Regions from separate parts of the Homo sapiens genome. Here region 2 is reported to be linked to region 1. Evidence: microRNA targets listed by miRTarBase, many of them from high-throughput screens and not tested one by one. Region 1 holds a microRNA gene; the other region holds the end of a gene's coding sequence.
The links. The annotated mature microRNA hsa-miR-4662b reads AAAGAUGGACAAUUGGCUAAAU and lies in region 1 at 1,342-1,363, opposite strand. An mRNA with a match to its seed (bases 2 to 7 or 8) in the 3' UTR can be bound and repressed. Matches are read on the target gene's strand: a 7mer-m8 pairs with bases 2 to 8, a 7mer-A1 pairs with bases 2 to 7 and ends in A, and an 8mer does both.

Region 2: the mRNA of FICD is a reported target of hsa-miR-4662b. Seed matches in the 3' UTR shown: 7mer-m8 at 1,917-1,923.

The regions. Positions count from the first base shown.
Region 1 is chr8:124,820,647-124,824,202 of GRCh38, forward strand. It overlaps MIR4662B (microRNA 4662b), which reads right to left and starts at 1,412; the gene lies at 1,332-1,412. MIR4662A (microRNA 4662a) reads left to right here and starts at 1,339; the gene lies at 1,339-1,405.
Region 2 is chr12:108,519,191-108,522,438 of GRCh38, reverse strand. It overlaps FICD (FIC domain protein adenylyltransferase), which reads right to left. Exons shown (of 3, transcript NM_007076.3): 3 at 1,229-3,248. The coding sequence ends at 2,964. It overlaps SART3 (spliceosome associated factor 3, U4/U6 recycling protein), which reads left to right. Exons shown (of 19, transcript NM_014706.4): 19 at 1-225. Among named protein-coding and RNA genes, the nearest start is that of FICD, 5.5 kb to the right of the region's middle.

The DNA of each region.
Region 1 (3,556 bases):
TTTGTATAAAGTTTTAAAGTATGAGACTTAAGTTAAAACAAGAGATTTTGTTTTGTTTTGTTTTTTGCTCCAACACCACTTGTTGAAAAGAGTTTCCTTCCTTCATTCACTCGCTTTTGCACTTTTGGTATTTTTGGTAAAAAATCAGTTGAGTATATTTTTGTGGGTCTATTTCTGAGTCCTCTATTCTGTTTCATTGATTTGTGGGTTTATCTCTCCACCAATATCATACTACCTTGGCAACTGTAGCTATATAGTGAGACTTAACACAAGGTAGAGTGCTTCCTCCTACTTTTTAAAATAGTTATCACAGCTATTTTATTTTCAAAATTTTTGCCTCCCATACAAATTTTAGAATAAGCTTGGCTTTGTCTACAAAATCTTTTTGGGATTTTGATAAGAATTGTGTTAAACTATTGATAATTTGGGAAGAATTGACATCTCCACTATGATGAGTCTTCCAGTCTATGAACATGGTATTTCTCCTCATTTATGTAGGTCTTTATTTTTTCATCAGCATTTTGTAATTTTCATCAGAGACATAGTATATGTATTTATACCTAAGTATTTTATTTTCTTTGAAGTGATTGTAAATGGTATTGTTTTTAATTTCAGTTTCCCCATGTTCATTGACAGGATAAACAAATGCATTTGATTTTTGAGTGTTGATCATGTATTCTGTGACCTTACTTAATTCACTTATTAATTCTAGGAGGTTTATTTTAGTTTATGTTTTTTAGATTCTTTAGGATTGTATAAATAGACAATCATGTTATCTGCAAATAGAGATGATTTTATTTCTTTCTTTTCAATCTGTATGTCTTGTATTTCTTTTTCTTGCTATATTGCACTGGCTAGAACTTCTACTACCCTGTTGAAGAAGATGTTGAAAGCAGACATCTTTGTCTTATTCCCAATCTCAGTGGGAAGACGTTCAGTTGGCACCATTAAGTATGATGTTAGATGTTTTTTTTTTTTTGTAAATGCTTTTTCACAAATTGAGATATTTTTCGTCTGTTCCTACTTCAGTGAGTTTTTTTGAAAAATAGGGATCATACTTTGCTTTCACAGGATTGCTGTGATGATTCTAGGTGAAACATAAGTAAAAGTTTATGGCTGTTGTGGGCCCTCAAATAAGGTTTAGAAAAACAACCTTTGGACAACATTAAGGCGAGTCATTACAACTTAAAGTGAAACCTTCTGTAGACAAATGATCTCACATCTTCACTTCTAGGTATCTCTTCTGAAGAAACATTGGCTCATGTCCCAGAGATTTATATACAAGGAAGTTTACTGCAACCATGGCTGCAACAGAAAAAGCCATTGTGTACCACAGTGTCTATTTAGCCAATTGTCCATCTTTAGCTATTCTGAATGCCTAAAGATAGACAATTGGCTAAATAGAAATTGTGGTACATCCATACAATGGAATACCATGAAGCCATCGACAAAACATCAAGATTCTATTGACCAACATGGAAAGAGTGCCATGGATGGGCACGGTGGCTCACACCTGTAATCCCAGCACTTTGGGAGGCCAAGATGGTTATATCACCTGAGGTCAGGAGTTTGAGACTAGCCTGGCCAACATGGCGAAACCCTGTCTCTACTAAAAATACAAAAATTAGGTGGGCATGGAGGCAGGCACCTGTAATCCCAGCTACTCAGGAGTCTGAGGCAGGAGAATCGCTTGAATCTGGGAGGTGGAGGTTGCAGTGAGCTGAGATTGTGCCATTGCACTCCAGCCTGGGCAACAAGAGCAAAATCTCAAAAAGAAAAAAAAAAGAGAGAGAAAAAGTGCCAAGACACAAGGTTAGGTGAACAAAGGAAGTCTCAAAACAGAACAATTTGATTTTATATTTATAAATGGCATAATATATAAATATGGCTTATAAATTTATACTTATATCTACATACATATAGTATATAAGTATGTATTTTTAAAACCCAGTCATATATTGTAAACACATTCCTAAGTGCATAGAAAAAGGCCTAGAAGGACTTGACACTCATTTGTTAACATCGGACATCCTTCGGGAAATGAATGGGATTGGGTAGAGTACAAAGGGGTACAAAAGATCACTTTAAAAAACTTTATAAATATATTTGGTCTTTAAAACATTTTTTTACAATGATAATGTTTATATTTACTATCTGTTTACCTAAATAAGACTCAGGTAGTATGGGGCAGGGAGTAGCAATTTCTAGTGGTAAAATTTCAGACAATTGTTTTCCATAGTCACTGGGACCCAGAATTCCTGAGCTCTCTTTGTTCTATTGCTGGCTGCAATATTAGTTGTATGATTTTGGACAAGTCACTTTCTCTCTCTGGGCCTCAGATTCCTCTTGTAATGAGGAGATTAAACTAGAGTACCCATGGATAAGCATTTTTATTATTCACATTTAAGCATCTGACCTCTCTTTGCAAATAGGTTTTTGTATGTGGAACCTTTATGTATACAACAGAAGAAAGCATGTCAACAACCCAACTATTTGTACCCCGGATCCATTTCAGCACTAACGTTTTCTGACTGGAGTTGAAGGCAGTGAACCCAAAGCCACCCGTCAGAACTATACTGCCCCTCAGCTGAGTGAAAAATAACTGGGTGATTTCAAGTGACCCACAGAAGCTCAGGAGTGACAGTTGCTCTCATAAAATGTGTTCCCTGAGCATTAAGCCCTGGTGTTGGCAGGGTCTGATAGCTCAGGGACTGTTTGAGCTCCAAGGAGATCATTACTGTTTCTAGAGAGTTCTATGAGGACCCTGGGTCTTTGGAAGAACTATCCATTTGTGGTTTTTAGGAGAATCAGGTCCTAGATCACTGAAGCCACAGCCCATGGCCCAGAGCTGTAGCTTTACTGCTTTGGGGCTGCAGCAGGGAGGCGAGGCCACCTGGGGAAGCTGAGGGCAAGAGTAGAGGTCAAGTGCAACACACAGCATGCTGTGAAATATGAGAAAGGCTCATAGTGTCTTTTCTTTGAAATGAAAAGCGCCATCTCGAGTTCTGTGGAATTGGGTCCAGCCTTCCTTGGCTATAACAGGCATGATAAGGATCATTTTGCCTCCTTTAGGAGCAGGGCTAGATGTCCTACAATTCTCTGCATTAGTTGAGCCCATGGACAGTAACAGCCATAGTCTGAGATATAAAAAAAAAAACAGCACATCGCCCAGAAAAAAGCCTGGGCCCTGTGCTTTTGGGATTCTATTCGCACGTGTTTCGGACTGGCAAGACTCAAACCCAGAAAGAGGGACTCCCTGAGAGGGGAAAGGCGGACGTGCAGGGCCACTCTGGCCTAAGTCTTCTCTGTGGATCGAAGCAGAAGGTAGGAAGCCGGTGTTTTATACCTCCCTGCCTTTCCCTGCCCATTTGTGGGATGGAGAGCTGGGGGCCTGGGTGAATGACCTGTTGTAGTTCAGGTCCACACTCCTACCAAGGCACACCAGCATGGAGGGCGGGAGACCTGGGCTCAAGCCCCAGTTGGGCCACTTTCTCATCGAGGCTAGTCACATGCCTTTGCAGGTTCTCAGTTTCATTGTTTTTAAAAAGACCATTAG
Region 2 (3,248 bases), not on the chromosome of region 1:
ATTGGCCAGTTCAGTAGGGGAAGCTTGCTTTATTAAGACACTCTGGAGAAAGACGTCAGGGAATCCTTGTATATGTCGTGGGAATCAACTCCTCATTTATCTGTTGCGTAAGTTTAAGTTTTTGTGCATCAGTCGGGTTTTCTATATTTTTTTAACTTAACATTTTTTAATATAACCGATTAAAAAGTAGACAGAACAGTAAAATAAACTCCTGTGTGCCTACCATTCAGCTTCCAGCATTCCTCAACTCCCAGCCCCTCTTCCTTCATGTCTGTTTCCCCTCCACCCTCTGTTATATTGAGGCACGTTCCAGATGTCATTGTGCTCATCCAGTAATGTTGCGGCAGGTGTCTCAGGAGGACTGAAAGGCCTTCACTCCTAGAAACATTAGTGGTAATCCCTTCATGTCATCAACTGTCCACTCAAATTTCCACCTTCCTACAAATATCAGCTCTCCTCCCTGTAAATTATTGGTTGGTAAGCCTCTTAAGTCTTAAAAGGTAGGTTCCCCTCCATCTCTTTTTTATACAAAACCAACTTTTTACTAGGCTTTACTTCTGAATTAAATTCAAGCGGCGGCTATTGACAGCAGCAAGAACCTTTGCTGTCCCACGCGTTCCTCCTGCAGTGTTCTCTGTGATGCTGCTTGGAAGGCTGATGGACTGTTCAGCTGGTGTGATGATTTGGGTAGCTCAGAGCCCTCATGGTTGGGGACCTGACACATGAAGAGCCCTGAATATCACTATGGGTGAGTGTGGCCTTACTTTTTGCTGCTTCACATTAACGGTTTGGCTTTGCCTGCAGCCAGTATTCTGACCTTAATGTCACACTTGCAGATGTCAGCCCAGGCTTGGTACAGGGGCAAACCTTTTCAGGCTTGAGCAGAACCCAGTTAGGTTCCGGGTGTTGACTGTTCTAGAAATGGATTTCCAGGACTACATGAGTGGGTTTGTGTGTTTTCCCCAGAAAATCCAGAACTGATGATAAATAGAAATGTGAAAAACTACTTCAGTTACTTGACTGTTTGTTAGTAAAAAAAAATCAGTAATTCATCCTTGCCCACCTAGGTAGGCGGTTTATCCAACTTCTGGGTCTCTTGCCCATGGAAATCACCATCTTGGATCTGTTGCTCTCCCAGAACAGTATTATGAATAGGGCTAAAGGTCAGAATACCCCCACTGCCCTTATGACAGATGGGAACATCTCCCAAATAAGACAGTCTCAAGCATTCATGTAATAAAATAACTTTATTAGAATCAGGAATTTGTTAAAATAATATCCTTCACATATAGCTAAAGTGCAAATTCTCTTGCTCTGTAGTAGAAGCAAGCACATCTGTCAGACCTCCGTGGTGTGCTTATAAAACCAAGACGAGAAGAGTTTTAAGAAGTACCTCTGGCAGCATAAGAGTACGAAAACACATTTTATAAAGGTTTGAACAATTATCATTTGGAGCCATTTCATATATCGTGTATGTCTTTTCACTTATTTTTCTTAACCTTTCAAAAACTACTCTGTGCTATTTATACAACTGAAGAACTGTATAAACTACTTTAGAGCAGTGGCCTCATTACTGTCAGGAACGGAATTACCAAATCAAAGAGACAACACTGCGTATTCGCCATCACTCACACACTGACAAAGTGCAGTAGTGTTAGACATCATGGGCTCTGTCACTGGGAAAGGGACCCAGTGACTTCCACCTCTCTGACTCTAAATAGCAGCAGTCATATTGGCACCTGTACCATATGATTCAAAGAGAAGATTCTACTTCCATTGGATGACAGCTTGGAAACCCGGCCATATTACATAGAGCACTACATCATTTCACAAGTTGCGAGAAAAATAAGGCCACTCCGAGGCAATCTCTTCTGCCTCCCAGGGGGATGGGACACGGGACAGTGCAAAGACCGTGGAAGATGGCAGTAAGTAGATGAAACTCCAGGACCAAAGGGATGCAGCCTGGCCATGGCTGAAGGTTTTTGCTCCATTCAGTAGAAACTGGTGCTCTAATTCATTATCAAAAATGCTTACTTGGTGTCCACATGGCACTTGTTTTCTCAGGTTAACATCTGCCTACAGAAAACTCAGGCAGAGGGGTGAGGGCAGATGCCTACTAGCATAACACCTGGTTTGCAGCACGATACAGGTGGAATGACAAGCCCAGAGAATTTCAGACGAAAACATCTGGCCTGAGTTGCTACAAATGAAGTGTGAGAGAAACGCGGATACACAAAGAAAACCAAACTGCCCGCCCACCATGTTTCCCCCTCCAACATACAGCTCTTTATGGCTACCCCCTATTCTTAATTAGAAAAATAGTCTCAATATGAAAAAAAAAAAAAAAAAAACAGCTGCTGGCACTAAAGTTTGCAAACTATGGCTCAAAAAGTCTTCCTGCAGGTAAGTAAGGAATGTCGGCATTCATTTTCTCTTCTATGAAGTTTGCTTGGAAGTTAGTCACCACTAATCTAAACCTTGAGAAAGTGAGCTTTCAACCATTTCTCTCAGCTGCGACTTGGGTCTGACTTCCCAGTTGCAGTCACAGAACCTCTCAGCCTGTTTCAGAGAAGCACTTGGAGGAGTTATGTCAGTGGCTCTGGGCCCCGTCCCACACCTCTTGGCCGCTCCTCCACCTTAGTGCAAATTCTGCTCCAGAACCTTTGTTCTGGTCACATGGTGGCACTGTTGCCCCTAAAGCACGGCCACCAGCAAGACACAGCAGACACCATACAATACTGACTAGCTTGCTCCAAAGAAGAAAATAAATAGCTTGGTTGAATTATAAGTTATTTTAGAGACAAGGCTTCATAACTTAGTTTTTTTTTTTTTTTAAAACTAAAACATTTGGAGGTAAAGAATGTTTCTCCTTTTGCTTTAGGAAGTGACTAGGTTTCTAGAAATGCTGTTTCTTTTTTTTTTTCCTACCTCAGGACAGCCTTTGTCACTGAGGATTTCTAGGGTTAGGGCTTCACAGGAAGCGTCTCCTTGAACCCAGAGTGGTTGGGTTGGGCTTCTGGCAGTGCCACCGAGTACTCAGTTGTGGCAAAAAGCAGGGTGTCCAGGGTGGTCTCAGTACACTTGGCGATGAAGCGAATGAAAGGCCTCACGTCGCCCTCGTTGGCAGCTTCCAACACGTGGTAGTAGTCGGACCGCTGCTCCTTGCGGATGGTGATGGGCGGGTAGCCCGCCTGCATGAGGATGAGGTTCATGAGCAGACGGGAGGTCCTCCCGTTGCCATCAATGAA